Linked DNA regions of Homo sapiens. The protein of the gene in region 1 purifies or fractionates together with the protein of each later gene. This does not show direct contact. Each region holds a gene or a part of one and is shown in the gene's direction. Other genes may lie near its edges.

Region 1 (7,287 bases):
GAGATTGCTAAAATGCATGTCTGACTGGCGGCCTCCTCTGCTTAAGGACTTTCAGAAATTGCCTACCACTTCCAGTTCAGTCTCCACAGAAGGGTGCTGAACACTCTGCATGAACTGGTTCCCAAAACCATGCCTCTTATGTACCCTCCCCGGCACCCATAGATAATGCTCCTCCACACCTCTCTACTATTGCACATTCTGTTTTCTTTGCATGGAAAACCCTTATATTGTCCTTGTTTACTGGCAAACATTCATCCTGTGAAATTCCACTCTTGCTTCACGTCTTTTATGAATCCTTTCCTAAACTTTCCAGATGAAACACTCTACCTCCTCCTCTGTAGCACTTCTGAACCTTGCTTATCTCCCTATTTTCCCATGTAATACTCTACAGTGTTTTGTAAGTGTGTGCTCACTGGCTTGTCTTCCCTACTGGATTCTAAGCTCCTTTAGGGGAAAGTTGGTGTTTTGTCCATGGGGTATAACTCAGTGCCTGGTACCTGGGTGATTAATGCCTGGGTAATCACTCTGTATGTCTTCAGTTAAAGTGGTTGAACAGAGGTTGAACAGAGTTAAAGAGGTTGAACAGATAAAAGCAAACAATCACTGAGACCATGTAAATATATAGTCACTAACATTAGAATGTTATAGCCATGATTAGAGTGACTGGAAATATAAATAACAATAGCCATTTATTGAGCAATTACTCCATGTCAGGAACTGTGCAAAGAGCTTTACAACACTCATCTTCTTTATTCCTTACAACCTTGTGAGGTGGCTATTAATGTCCCCACATCACAGGTGAGAAAACTGAGACACAAACAAATTTAAAACTTGTCCAAGGCCGGGCATGGCTCATGCCTGTAATCCCAGTGCTTTGGGAGGCTCAGATGGGAGGATGGCTTGAGGCCAGGAGTTCGAGACTAGTCTGGGCAATGTAGCAAGACCTCATCTCTACAAATAATTTAAAAATTAGCCAGGCATGGTGGTGTGTACCTGTAGTCCTAGCTACTCGGGAGGCTGACGTGGGAGGATCGCTTGGCCCAGGAGATCAAGGTTGCAGTGAGCTATGATTGTGCCACTGCACTCCAGACTGGGTGACAAGAGTGAGACACTGTCTCTTAAAAAACAAAAAACAAAAACAAAAACTTGTCCAAGAGTAATGCAGGTAGGAAGCAGCAGAGCGGAGATTAAAATTCAGATCTGACATCAAAGCCCTGTACTGGACACTAGTACAGCTGATGATACAATAAACATGATTTATCTATGTTTCTATTATCTGTTTGGGAAGGGAAATGAACAGAATTATCTACCAAATTGTACAAGGAAAATAACAAATCCAGCAGTTAAGTGCAAAATAACATATCATTACGCCCTACTACCTTACAAAGAATGAATTGGAAAAGATTTTCTGAAAAAATAAAATTTTATTGAGGGTTAGGAGATGCATCCAGGCAGGAAGAAAAGCCTGAGAAAATAGAAAGGCAAGGAGAACTGTCGAGAGTGTCAACGTGAAGTCTGGTGATTGAGGATAGCCAGGGGGCAACCAGTCAGAGGCATTGAAATCAACATCAGTTCCTGCTTGGAAAGCTAATTGTGTTGTGATGAACATGACTCTCAAAGTAAATATTATATTTGGTTTTTTAAAAAAAGAAGAAGAAATAAGCTTTTAAGATCCTCCCCTTCCCCATTCTAAATATACCTGGCTGGTCTACTTTCAAGTACTATACACATTTTTTTCCTTATGATCATGTTTCTATCCTACTGGTGTTAGTTTTTTCATCTTTCTGCCAGAGTGTACACTTTCCAAGGACAAGAACCATATCTAAATGAAACTGTAAACTCTTTAGTGTCAGCTGCAGTCTTAGGGAATCTAGCATAAGAAATTAACTAACGTCGAACATCTGTAATGCTGGTATTTGTGTGACGGATGCAAGTCAGGATAAGATCTTATTCTAAAACACTAATTTCCAGGGAGGATAACTTCACCATCTCTGAGCGCTATACATTCAGAGACTGTAAAACAGTAATGATATTCTTACTGAGTAGCAAGCATTTACTGTGGGAAGAACGAGGTTTGAGCACCATTGGAAAGGATGGTATGAGCCAGGCGCAGTGGCTCACACCTGTAATCCCAGCACTTTGGGAGGCTGAGGCGGGTGGATCACCTGAGGTCAGGAGTTCAAGACCAACCTGACCAACATGGAGAAACACTGTCTCTACTAAAAATACAAAAAGTAGCCACATGTGGTGGCGGGCGCCTGTAATCTCAGCTACTCGGGAGGTTGAGGCAGGAGAATCGCCTGAACCCGGGAGGCGGAGGCTGCGGTGAGCCGAGCTCGTGCCATTGCCCTCCAGCCTGGCAACAAGAGCAAAACCCTGTCTCAGAAAAAAAAAAAAAAAAAGAAAGGCTGGTATGGCTGGGAGTGGTGGCTCACACCTTAATCCCAGCACTCTGGAAGGCCGAGACAGTAGTTCAGCTCAGTAGGTCGAGACCAGCCTGGGCAGCATGGTGAAACTCTGTCTCTACAAAAAATACAAAAATTAGCCAGGTGTGGTGGCACACGCCTGCAGTCCCAGCTACTCGGGAGGCTGAGGCAAGAGAATCCCTTGAGCCCACGAGGTGGAGCTTGCAGTGAACTGACATCCAGCCATTGCACTCCAGCCTGGGCAACACAGCAAGACTCTGTCTTGAAAGAAAAAAAAAGAAGAGAGAGAAAAAAAGTAGGATGGTATGAAATAACTGAGATATGCTCTTAATGTAAGAGATCCTTACCACCAGTTGGGGAGCCAGAACATTCAAATGTAACCTCAGGAACATATCCGTGAGTGCAAAATAACAGAGTAATGTATGAAATTAAATGCTTAAGTGGTGAGGGGCTACATGAAATTAAATGCTTAAGTGGTGAGAAGTAATGTGAACCATTTTCAAATAAGTTCTTACGTGCAGTTCAACCTAAGTAGGTTATCAAAGGTATTTATACTAAGCACTAAAAGCTAAGTATTAAATACTAAAAGCTGCCTGTGTCAACACTGGCCCAGGACATCCCCAAGGAGAGTGCTGGCTAAAGGTCTGGAACTTTAAATCTTTAGAGTTCTTTACTTAGCACATCAATCAGATATTTACCTTCTGCTTCTTTGTTCTTTAGCCCTGCTCCTGGGGGAAATCTCCATCTTAACGGGGCCTCAGTTTGAAATTGGGGTTCGGGATCCTAACTTAATGACTGAGCGTGCCTGGGTTCCACCCAGTCGCAATTGGTCAAGACTTGGTCCTCTCAAGGCCTTTCCTCCGGAGAGGTTAAATCCTCAACGCCTGCTCTCCACTTTCCAGCCTTTTCTTAAGGCTCTTCTTTCAGCCTAGTATCTGTGACCAACTTCTCCTTCCTAGGCCCTCTCATTATTATTTAAATGTCCATTCTTTTGGGGGCTTCAACTTCACTAAAAACATTCCTTCCTCTTCCTCCGCCTCGTAACTCTCTGCTCAAGCATCTGGATGCCAGAGGTCATTTGAGCTAAATGGGGTTCAAAGCTTTTCTGACTCTGGTACTGCATTCCCCACTTTCAAATCACATTTTTCACCCCAGGGCCCCCAGTGGTCTCAAACCCAAACACAGTGCGGTTAGGAAGTGGGCACTCGCCACAGAGCTAAATTGGGAATTATTTGACCTGCAGCTTCTGGAGAATGGTTTTGCCTCCTCCCCGCGACATCAACTAACTCACTTGCTGTTAGCTAAGGGCAAGGACAATGTCTCCTCTACCAGACAGGAAACTTGATGGCGGACGCTATCCGTTAGTTCCTTTTTCAATTCCCCATTCCCACCCCTTCGAGACCACGATGTTTCTTAAAATACAAAGTTTCTTTTACAAAACATCCCTCCGCAACTTTGAGTTTATATAATAAACGGAAACGTCCTTTAAACAATCAGGCTACGAAGGGGTTAAATCTAATCTCAGCAACCTGATGGATTCTGGGGGGTTTCCTTCCTCGACTCTAGAAATTAAAACGAAATTTTGCCCAAGGTAAAGATGAGAACCGTTTACATCAACTGTCAGGCTTCTGCCCCAAACAAGAATGGCTACCCACGCCCACAAACAGAGCCACTCACGTAACTAAAAATGGTTGGCTCCGGGTTCCACCACTGGAGTCACTTTCTGCCCAACTTCAAAATGGCGCCCACTAGCTTCACCAAAAGGATCGAACTTCCCAGCACCCTCTCTGGCCCGTAACGTCAGGTGACGCGAGACCCAGCCGGAAGTGAAGGAAAAAGCGCTTCAGCCCGCGGCGCCTGCGCAGAACGCTCCAGACGCTGAGAGGCAGGAGGCACTAGGGATCGTCCGCAGGATTGGGACTGATACAGAGGCCGCCACGGAGCCCGCCGGAGCCACCGTTCCTGCTGCTGCCGCCGCTGCCCGAATCGGAACCGTCGGGCCGCAGCCGCCGGCAATGCCGCGAAGGAAGGTGAGAAACGGGAGAGGAGGGATGGCGGGTTTCTAAGGACAGTCGATTGAGCACCGTGACGCAGTTGGCCACGCCTCACAGTGCTTGGGTCCCAACTTTCCGCTCCCCCGAACCTTGTTCAGCTACCCTCTCTTCTGTCCATACCCAACAGAAAAATGTGGGCCCGACCCTGGCCTCGGCCTATGCTTGCAACTATTCCCGCCCTCTGCTTGCCTGGATCGGAGGCGTTCTTATTAATTGGTCGCTGAAACGTCTGGAAGCATATTGATTGGCTGGTGACGCCGCCTGTTTGGGCTCAACGGTCACCTCCCCGCGTGCGGGGGCGGTGTCTGGCCCCGGCCCCAGCGCTCTCCCACTGGCTGGAGAGAACGATCCCTCCTCTCCTGATTGGTCGAGGTTGGCAGTCTGTCCTGTGGGGGCGCGGCTTAGGCGGACCTCGATTGGGTGGCCCGAATCCCCGCCTTTCCGAGCGGGGACGCTGATAGGTGCAGAGGCGGGGTTTTGGAGGCCTCGTTACCTTCCAGGTGAGGGGCACAACAAAGCAGAAGACTGGGTGGTGGGAAGCCAGCGCCCACTCGCAGGGGATCCCTCTCAGGCCAGTTGCCTCTTTCCTTATTTGCTAGTTCGACAGCGCCTAGAAAATGCAGTTGGTAAAAACTAAAAACTTCTAGAATTAGAAGGCACTTAGAAGATCACCCAGGAATGGCCCCGTCGTTTCTTCTTACAGCTGAACTAACGGAGGCCCATGGAGTGCCGCAAGCCACTCAGGCAGTGGCAGATCCAGAATATAGAACAAATCTAACTCAATTCAACAAATGTCTATTGACTACTTTCTGCGCGGTGGTTGCTGTGGATTCAGAAATTAATTAGATGTGATCCCTGGCTTAAGGGTGTCACAGCCCGATAGGAGAAAACAGACATGAATAATCTTAGAAGGATCTAGTAAGTTCTCAGCTTGGAGGTGTATACAAGGTGTTGCTGGAAGGAAGTGAAGGAGCAGTTAAGTCTGCCCTGGAGTACAATGGGAGATATATTGGTAAAAGCCACAGAGAAGAGCTGAGTTCCAGGATCAAGCCAGGAAGGAATAAGTCTCACGTCAAGGCTTTAAATATCTCGGTAATTAGACTATAATGGTGACTTTTAAGATTCCCCCTTCATTTCAGCCGTTTTCTGTGATTCTTGCTCATTTCCTGGCAGGTTACCCTTAAGATACTTGGAAAACTGGGTGGTATTCTTGCTCATATCAATAGAAATCTTTCTCTTCACAGCGGCTTTTCAGGTTGAAAATGTACACTTTTTAATGTCTCCTAAAATGACCTCAGCTGGTGGGTGGTATGTATGTGTTTTTTTGTTTGTTTGTTTTTGAGACGAGGTTTTGCTCTTGTTGCCCAGGTCGGAGTGCGATGGCGTGATGTTGGCTCACTGCAACCTCCGCCTCCCGGGTTCAAGCGATTCTCCTGCCTCAGTCTCTCTAGTAGCTGGGATTACAGGCGGATTCCATGACGCCCAGCTAATTTTTGTATGTTTAATAGAGACGGGATTTCACCATGTTGGTCAGGGTGGTTTCGAACTCCTGACCTCAGGTGATCCACCCGCCTCGGCCTCCCAAAGTACTGGGATTACAGGCATGAGCCACCACGCCCGGCCGGTGGTATGTATGTAAAGGCTCACCAAATGCAGGAATAATATTGGTGCCTTGAAATAGGGCCACAGTCCTCTTTCTTAATTTCCCAAATACCGGGAGTTACTTGAAAATGTACATTTTTTTAGTAACCTGTTTGGCGGCAAACCTGTCTTAATCTGTCCTGAGGCTACTTATGGTTTTTGTGTGTCTCATTTAGTGTGACTGTTTATATTTTTTGCTGCAGAAATACTATTATGTTTTGTTATTGGGTGGTATTTGCAGGATACATGCAAAGTACTCCCCTTCTAAAAATCCAAAACAATTACAAATTCTAAACACAACTGGCCCTCAGGGTTTTGAATAAATAATTGGGACTTACAGTGTGAATCTTTGTATTGTTTTCAGTAAATATTTTTTCCTTTCTGGTTTTGTAAAGGGTATAGTGTTAGTGCTTAATTGATAAAAGTTATCTTTATGGCTAAGAAAGAACTCCTCAGGAGGATAATAATTGACAAATCCTTGCTCATTGAAAAGATGGTTTTGAAAACAACTGTTTTTGAATACCCATGAGTCTTCATGTGCAAGCTGCCTTTTTGGAAGATAGATGGCTTTCATGTGGAGAAACGTCAAGGATAGATGGCATACGCACTAACAATTTTCATCTTTTTCTGCTTAAATTCTTTTGGGATTAGAGTTGTGGTCCATGATATTTTGAGATAGTGTATGGTTTTTAAAAAATGTGATAGCTTTTCATGGAGACATTGAACAAAAGCTACTCTAAGTTAAATGAGGTCCAGCACCAACGATTTTCTCACTACAGTGGACCTTTTTTTGTGATATTGATCTCCAAATGGTCTTGGTTAATACTTAGTACTAATACAGTAAGAATTAATTCTCTTCATGGCCGGGTGTGGTGGCTCACGTCTGTAATCCCAGCACTTTGGGAGGCCAAGGCGGGTGGATCACCTGAGGTCAGGTGTTCAAGACCAGCCTGGCCAACATAGTGAAACCCCGTCTCTACTAAAAATACAAAAATTAGCTGGGCATGGTGGCGGGCGCCTGTAGTCCCAGCTACTCGGGAGGCTGAGGCAGGAGAATCACTTGAACCCGGGAGGCGGAGGTTGCAGTGAGCCACGATTGCGCCCTTGCACTCCAGCCTGGGCAATGAGAGCGAATGAAACGGAAGCTCTTCATTTATTTAACAAAA
Region 2 (7,035 bases), on another chromosome or scaffold:
CCTCCTTTCTCTTTGCTTCAGATCTAAGACCTTGAATGCATCTCAAGCCTTATAACAGCCAATGCTTTTGGTCCTTGGTTGTCAGTGTCAGTATCTAGCTTGTAGGAGCAGACTCTTTCTAAAATGTTCAAGCAGATTCTCTTTTTTTCTAATAGATGACTCCAAACTGCCTCCTCCGCCAACCCTGGAGCCCACTGGGCCTGCACCTTCCTTGTCTGAGCAAGAATCCCCCCCGGAGCCCCCTACTCTGAAACCCATTAATGATAGCAAACCTCCAAGCAGGTTCCTAAAGCCCAGAAAGGTGGAAGAAGATGAGCTCTTGGAAAAATCACCACTGCAGCTAGGGAATGAGCCTTTGCAACGCTTGCTCAGTGACAATGGCATCAACAGACTATCCCTCATGGCCCCTGACACCCCGGCCGGTACCCCACTTAGTGGTGTGGGTCGCCGCACATCAGTCCTCTTCAAGAAGGCCAAGAATGGGGTTAAGCTACAGAGAAGCCCAGACAGGGTCCTGGAGAATGGCGAGGACCATGGTGTGGCAGGCTCTCCTGCCTCTCCAGCCAGCATCGAGGAAGAGCGCCACTCCCGGAAGCGGCCAAGGAGCAGGAGCTGTAGTGAGAGCGAAGGGGAGAGGTCCCCCCAGCAGGAGGAAGAGACAGGTGACCCTGCCTGTGACTTCTCTTGATACTTCGCATCTGCTTTTCTGCTTTGCCTTGCCAACCAGCACCTTCCCCAATTGGCCATCTCTCTAATGGCACCATTGGACAGCAATAGTAGCATTGAGGGCACCATAGCTCACAGTTGGGCCTGGCATGTTAGTAGCAGCCAGGGGAAATAGGCTTTGAGCAGGTATTTTCCAGAGAGCCAGATTGTGTCTGGGATTCATTGGCCCTGAGGGTAATGCAATGTTGTATAAAGTAAAATGATTCCTACCTTCATTTCAGTTCATTCATCAAATATTTGTGTTAGGCACTGTTCTAGGCATTGGGGGAAAAAATCAATGAGCAAAACAGACAAAAATCTGCTCTCTTATGGGGGAATATATTAAAAGCAAATGAGTAAACCGTATCTTGTATTAGAAGATTTGGAGAAAGATCCAGCAGGGAAGGAATGCTAGAGTGGTCTTAGAGAGGGTGGCCAGGTTTTCTAAGGAGGTAACGTTTGAGTAAAGATCTGAAGGAGTTGAAGGCATGAGCTATTTGTATGTCTAGGGGAAGAACATTCCAAAAAGATAGACTAGAAAGTACATAGGTCCTGGAGGTGGGAACATGCCTGCATGTCTGAGGAACACTGAGGGAACCAGTTTGGCTGCAGCAGAGGGGGTGGGGTGGGGTGAGGTGGTGATAGAGGTAGGTAGTGGAGGTTCCATCACTAAAGAGAGGGTTTTTTTTTGTTTTTTTGTTTTTTTGAGATGAGTCTTGCTCTGTCGCCCAGGCTAGAGTGCAGTGGCATGATCTCAGCTCACTGCAACCTCTGCCTCCTGGGTTCAAGCAATTCTCCTGCCTCAGCCTCCCAAGTAGCTGGACTACAGGTGCCCACCACCACGCCTTGCTAATTTTTGTGTTTTTAGTGGAGATGGGGTTTCACCATGTTGGCCAGGCTGGTCACCTGACCTCAAGTGATTTGCCCGCCTCAGCCTCCCAAAGTGATGGGATTACAGGCATGAGCCACCGCGCCCCACCTAAAGTGTTCTTAATATACATCCAGCAGGAGCTAGTCATGAGTAGCTGTGAGGAAGTAATAAAATAAGTCAGACTTAATTCCAGCTCTGGAAGGTTCACAGGCCATTGGGCAAATGAGTCTCTCAAAATGTAGAGAAATCACAGTGGTGGACAGTATGTTGTTATTTGTCAGGTGAGAGGTAGCATTGCTAGAGGTGTTCAGGGAATTTGAGCTGTAGGAGTTGGGCTGAGCTGGCCCTGTGGGATGAGGGCAGACTGGAAAGGAATGGTTATGAAGGCCTCAGGCCTGGGTGTGTGGGAACAAGGAGGACAGAATCTCTGTGAGGGACAGCTTAGAGAGGGGCTTCCCAGAGCATCAGGAGCCAAGACTGGATGGGTGAGATGGGACTGAATGTGAAGGACTTTGAATGCCGGGCAGACTACTTAGGTCTTGGTGGGTTAGGGAAGACCCACTTTCTTGGCAGGGAGGGCTGCTCTTGGCTTTTGCTCTTTGTGTCCCTCATGTACTTTTATGTGGTGACTTTGGACTGTGTGGCCAGCACTTGCTTTTCTGTCTTCTTGCCTGACATTTTGTTTTCAACAATACCTTCCCATCTCGTCTGGCCAAAACTTTTCTGTGTTAGGGGAGTAAGTTGGTATATAGAGGCAAGAGCTTAAGGCCTGGATTTAGGCATACCTGCACTCAAATCCCCAATTTCTTACTAGCTGTGTAACGACAGGAAAATTAATTAACTTCTCTGAGCCTGTTTCCTTATTCTTAATATGGGGTTTCTGATACCTACCTTGCAGGGTTCTAAGAACTAGAAATACCCTTTATAAAGCACTTGGCATATAGCAGTAGATGGTAGCAGTTACTGTCATCCTGTCAGTTGAATCAGGCTTAGCCATACAGTGCTGAGAACACTGCATTAAAAGAATGAAAGATCCTGCTGTTGGGAAGTAGCTCTGTACATGAGGCCCATCCAACCTGAGGGGGCCTGTTGCTTGGAGATACTGCTAGAATCCTGTCTCTCACCATCCCAGTTGCCTGGCACTCAGGGATACTTCTATACAACCTTAGTTGAATCTCACAAAAAGAGGTGTTGATCCTTCGTAAGTGAGGCACCCAAGACACAGATGGCTTCAGTGATTTAAATTGTGGTCATAATGTTAGAGGCAGAGCCAGGTCAGAGGATAGACATTGTGGCTCAGACACCTGCTCTTATAGGAGGGACTTGCCTCACAGTTTTCTAGTTACGGTGTCTGTAATCTACAGCTTTCAAATCAGGTGCCTGGCCCATCTCTGTACACCTCTTGGCTCAGCTGTTAGAATTATAGGACTTTTAGTGTGGCTAGCAATTGGATAAAGGCCAGGCACAGTGACTCATTCCTGTAATCCCAGCACTTTGGGAGGCTGAGGCAGAAGGATTACTTGAGCCCAGGAGCTCGAGACCAGCCTGAGCAACATGGCAAGACCCTGTTTCTGCAAAGTTAAAAAGTTAGCTGGGCATAGGGCTCATTCATGCCTGTGGTCACACCTACTCAGGAGGTTGAGGCAGGGGATCACTTGAACCCATGCTATTGAGGCTCCAGTGAACCTTGTTTACACCACTGCACTCCGCCTGGGCAACAGAGCGAGACCCTATCTCAAAAAATAGAAAAATAAATTGGATAGATAGGAGAGTGGAAGCCTTCACTTCAAGGTCATATACCTGGGATGACCAAACAGCCTTCATTCGCCTCTGAAGGGCTCCCCACTATAAACAGACCTTCTCTCATACATACTGAATAGTAAGTAAGTAAGGTATTATCTTCACTTCACCAAAGGAGAGGTCAAGAGACCTCAAAGCAAGAGAAAAGGAACCTGTGTTTCAGAGCCCAGCCTAGAACCCCAGGTTCTGACTCTCCCTCCCAGGAAGTTCCGGGCTGCTTTAGTTCCGCTGAAGAGTGCCCCCATCCTCACTTTGGATTAGCCCTGTGAGATATCTCAGGGTGTGGTTGACAAAGGGCCCTTATCCATCTCTAGTCTCTCTTGACACCACCCCCAAAGAATCAAACTAGCTGTTGCCAGCTGTGTGATGCATAGGTTATGTGAGTCTTTATCTGAAGAGGCAAGGTGGTTGGGCTCCTGAAAAAGGCAGAGAAGGCTACCTGATAATCGAGGTTTGAAATTAGAAGCAGATCCAAGGACTTGTGAGCCAGCCAGGGTAGGAGAAGTCTTAGTATCTCCCTGTGTAGCCAAATGACAGTAGCTGAGTGAGCTGTGTGCTATGGTTTCCTTAAACAAAAAGCAGAAGGATGGGAAGGAAATTGCAGTGTCTGCTCCTTGCCCTAGCCAGCAATATTTCCCCCCAAACTTTTATCTTGATCAGATCTTCTCTATCACCCAAGACCCATTTCTCACAGGGAAAGGAATAGCCATCCTCTCCACTCGTCACTGAGCCCTCCTGAGGTGGCTGCCTCACCCTGTAGCATGTGTTGGGAAGGGGGATTTCTGCACTCAGACTCACTGTGTGTGTCCTTGGCAGGCATGACCAACGGCTTTGGAAAACACACCGAAAGCGGGTCTGACTCTGAATGTAGTTTGGGTCTCAGTGGTGGACTGGCATTTGAAGCTTGCAGGTAAGAACACATTCCCAAAGCTTTGTCAGCAGCTCTGCTACCCCTCCTTTTACTCTCCATTCAGCTACAGATTGAACCTCTTCCTGCTTACCTTTTTCTCTCTTCCCCCACTCCTGCTATTTCCTGAGGCCTCTTATCTGTAACTCTGGGAGTTCCTAGGAAACAGGGTGACCCTTGACTCTCAGATCTGATCTGAGAGAGGAAGAGTAGTGCTGATGCTTACAGGGTTTGTGGGGCTGAATTTGGACTCTAGAGGATAAGAAAAGCTAAATCTCCTGTTGTTCAGTGAAATTAACATTTGAGCCAAAGTCCCCTGCTGCCCCTACACACATTTAGACAACCCAGCCATTACAGAGTTGGTTTTGCTCTTTGCCTTTTGGGGCGTCATAGCCTCTTTATAGAGGTGTGGTGTAGGTGTATGAAATGACCAAGTAGGAAATTTGGAATTGCCTTTTTTTTTTTTTTTTTGAGACGGAGTCTTGCTTGCTGCCCAGGCTGGAGTGCAGTGGCCCGATCTCGGCTCACTGCAACCTCCGCCTCCTGGGTTCAAGTGATTCTCCTGCCTCTGCCTCTTGAGTAGCTGGGAGTATAGGCACGTGCCACCACGCCTAGCTAATTTTTGTATTTTAGTAGAGATGAGGTTTCACCATGTTGGCCAGACTGGTCTTGAACTCCTGACCTCAAGTGATCTGCCCGCCGCAGCATCCCAAAGTGCTGGAATTACAGGCGTGAGCCACTGCGCCTGGCCTGGAATTGCCTTTTATTCAGACAAAGGCCCCAAAGCTCTTCTGCTGTCCTTGAGCTGAAAAGAGATGGATTTCTTCCCATTCTTTTATCTGAAGGGAGGATTTCTCAGACCAGACCTTAAAGTTTCTTCCAGGCACAAGAGCTTATGGAGCCCCTGCTCTGTGTTCTGTGTTCTGCAAGACACCAGGGCGGGGAGGACTCTTAGAAATGAGAAACCCTCACTGCCACAAAGGAAAAGTGACTTGTCCTGAAGGCTAATGTCATGGCCCCACCCATGACTGCTGAATGGGTCTTAGGTTCAGAGTAGGGGAGGAAAGGTCCCAGGGCAGCACCAGAAGACTATTTGTGTTTGAAGTGCTTCCAAGGCAGACTGGGCATGTGTTCTTTTAGGCATTCAGTCTACCTGGGCTGTAGGACTACTGGTAGGGCTGAGGGGGTCCCCAGCTACTCGTTGGCCTGGACTGGTTCCCTGCTGTGGTTTCTCTGAGATTCCCCTACCCCCCGCCAACCCTCAGAGTTGCCCTAGCTTCCTATTGCAGCCTCCAGAGATATAGGGGAAGTAGATGGGAAAAAATTATCAGGCACAGGAAAGAGAAAGATTTCAGAATCTTACACGATGCTTCTAGCCTGGCCCTGGGTTGAAGTTCCTGACTCCCTTCAAAGATAAGGTACCTGGAAGCCCACTTTGTTGGGGTCAGGGTAGGATTGGACCCATCAAACTATCCTTTTCTTGCTCTTGACTAAAAGTGAAAGGTGTGTTGTTGGCCCCTTCTTCTATGAAGGGCATTCTTTTCAGCTATGAGCCACAAGAGCAAGCAAGGCCAGGCTCTGGTTAGCCTGCTAATTCAGGTGGCGTGTTTGCCTTTCTGCAGAACTCCAGTGCAATGCCCTTGATTTATCTGGGGCCCCTTGGAGGAAGTATGTATTAATATTTCAGGGTTTAAAATAGGAGATCCAAAGGCTTCAACTGCAAGGGTTGTTTTTCTTTTTCCCCCCATACTGTGGTAATAAGTATATAAGGGAAGACCTTATTTATTAGACCAGAATCATATAATCCCAGAATTAGAAATAACCTTGAAAGAACTGGTCACTAACCCATCCCCCACACTCCCTTTTTCACTTACCCCTTGGTTTATCTTTTCTGATGATTTTCTGAGCAGGTTGGTGCTACATGTGCTTTCTATAGATCACTCATTCAAATATTGATAACTGAACACCTACTGTATGCCAGGTACTGTTCTAAGCACTAAGGTGCCTGTTCTCATGAAGATTATCTTCTAAGGTGTCTGTTCTCATGGATATGGATGTTAAACCAGTAAATAAGATAACTGTAGGTTGGGTTGTCTGCTTAGGCTGGGGTAACTTGGAGAAAGGGCTGAAATGCAGGCCATGATTGAGTCAGTTGTGCTTTTTTCTACAAATCAGGAACATACAGACCTATTTTTGGTGTTGCATCCTATTTTATTGAGCTCATCCTTCTCAGAGCTCATCATTCTATAGTACAGTATTAGCAGTTTGTAATACTTTAAGTAAGACATTAAAATTTACTATCCTTCGTATGACAATAACTACAGCTGTGTTTATTGACTGCATGGTATGTGCTGTACTGAGAGTTTTATGTGTGTTCGTTCATTAATCCTTACAACAACACATGGGGAGTGTAAGCCTCGGAGAAGTTAAGTAACTTGCTGAAGGTTACAGAACTGATAACAAGAGCTGGGTTTTGAACCCAGATAGGCTCCAAGAGTTTAATTTCTTAACTACTTTGCTGTGCTGTCTTCTGTTGTATTTGAAGATGTCTCCCCAGATTCTTGATGTGAACTTTGATTTGTTTTTCTTTTTCTCATCTTGACGTGAACTTTGAGAGGCTTTCCTGATAAAATTACTAGCACTTTACATTTGTACAAGGCCTCAATTTCTCTAATATGTTGGCAGATTTTTATAGGGTAAATGGGAACTAAATCCTAAATGTAAACTGGGTATTTTTTGTTTTTTCCCAAAC

Evidence for each region. The genes of interacting proteins can lie anywhere in the genome.
Region 2: the proteins of KAT7 (region 1) and BRPF3 purify together in Homo sapiens (affinity purification with mass spectrometry; 4 studies listed by BioGRID and IntAct, with this or other methods). This does not show direct contact.

Annotation. Positions count from the first base shown.
Region 1 is NC_000017.11:49,784,394-49,791,680, forward strand, and holds the start of KAT7 (histone acetyltransferase KAT7), read left to right. Parts: upstream 1-4,287; 5' UTR 4,288-4,441; coding exon 4,442-4,456; intron 4,457-4,669; exon of another isoform or gene 4,670-4,717; intron 4,718-7,287. UniProt on the Homo sapiens protein: Catalytic subunit of histone acetyltransferase HBO1 complexes, which specifically mediate acetylation of histone H3 at 'Lys-14' (H3K14ac), thereby regulating various processes, such as gene transcription, protein ubiquitination, immune regulation, stem cell pluripotent and self-renewal maintenance and embryonic development.
Region 2 is NC_000006.12:36,213,725-36,220,759, forward strand, and holds part of BRPF3 (bromodomain and PHD finger-containing protein 3), read left to right. Parts: intron 1-135; coding exon of another isoform or gene 136-152; exon of another isoform or gene 153-155; coding exon 156-662; intron 663-4,192; coding exon 4,193-4,286; intron 4,287-7,035. UniProt on the Homo sapiens protein: Scaffold subunit of various histone acetyltransferase (HAT) complexes, such as the MOZ/MORF and HBO1 complexes, which have a histone H3 acetyltransferase activity.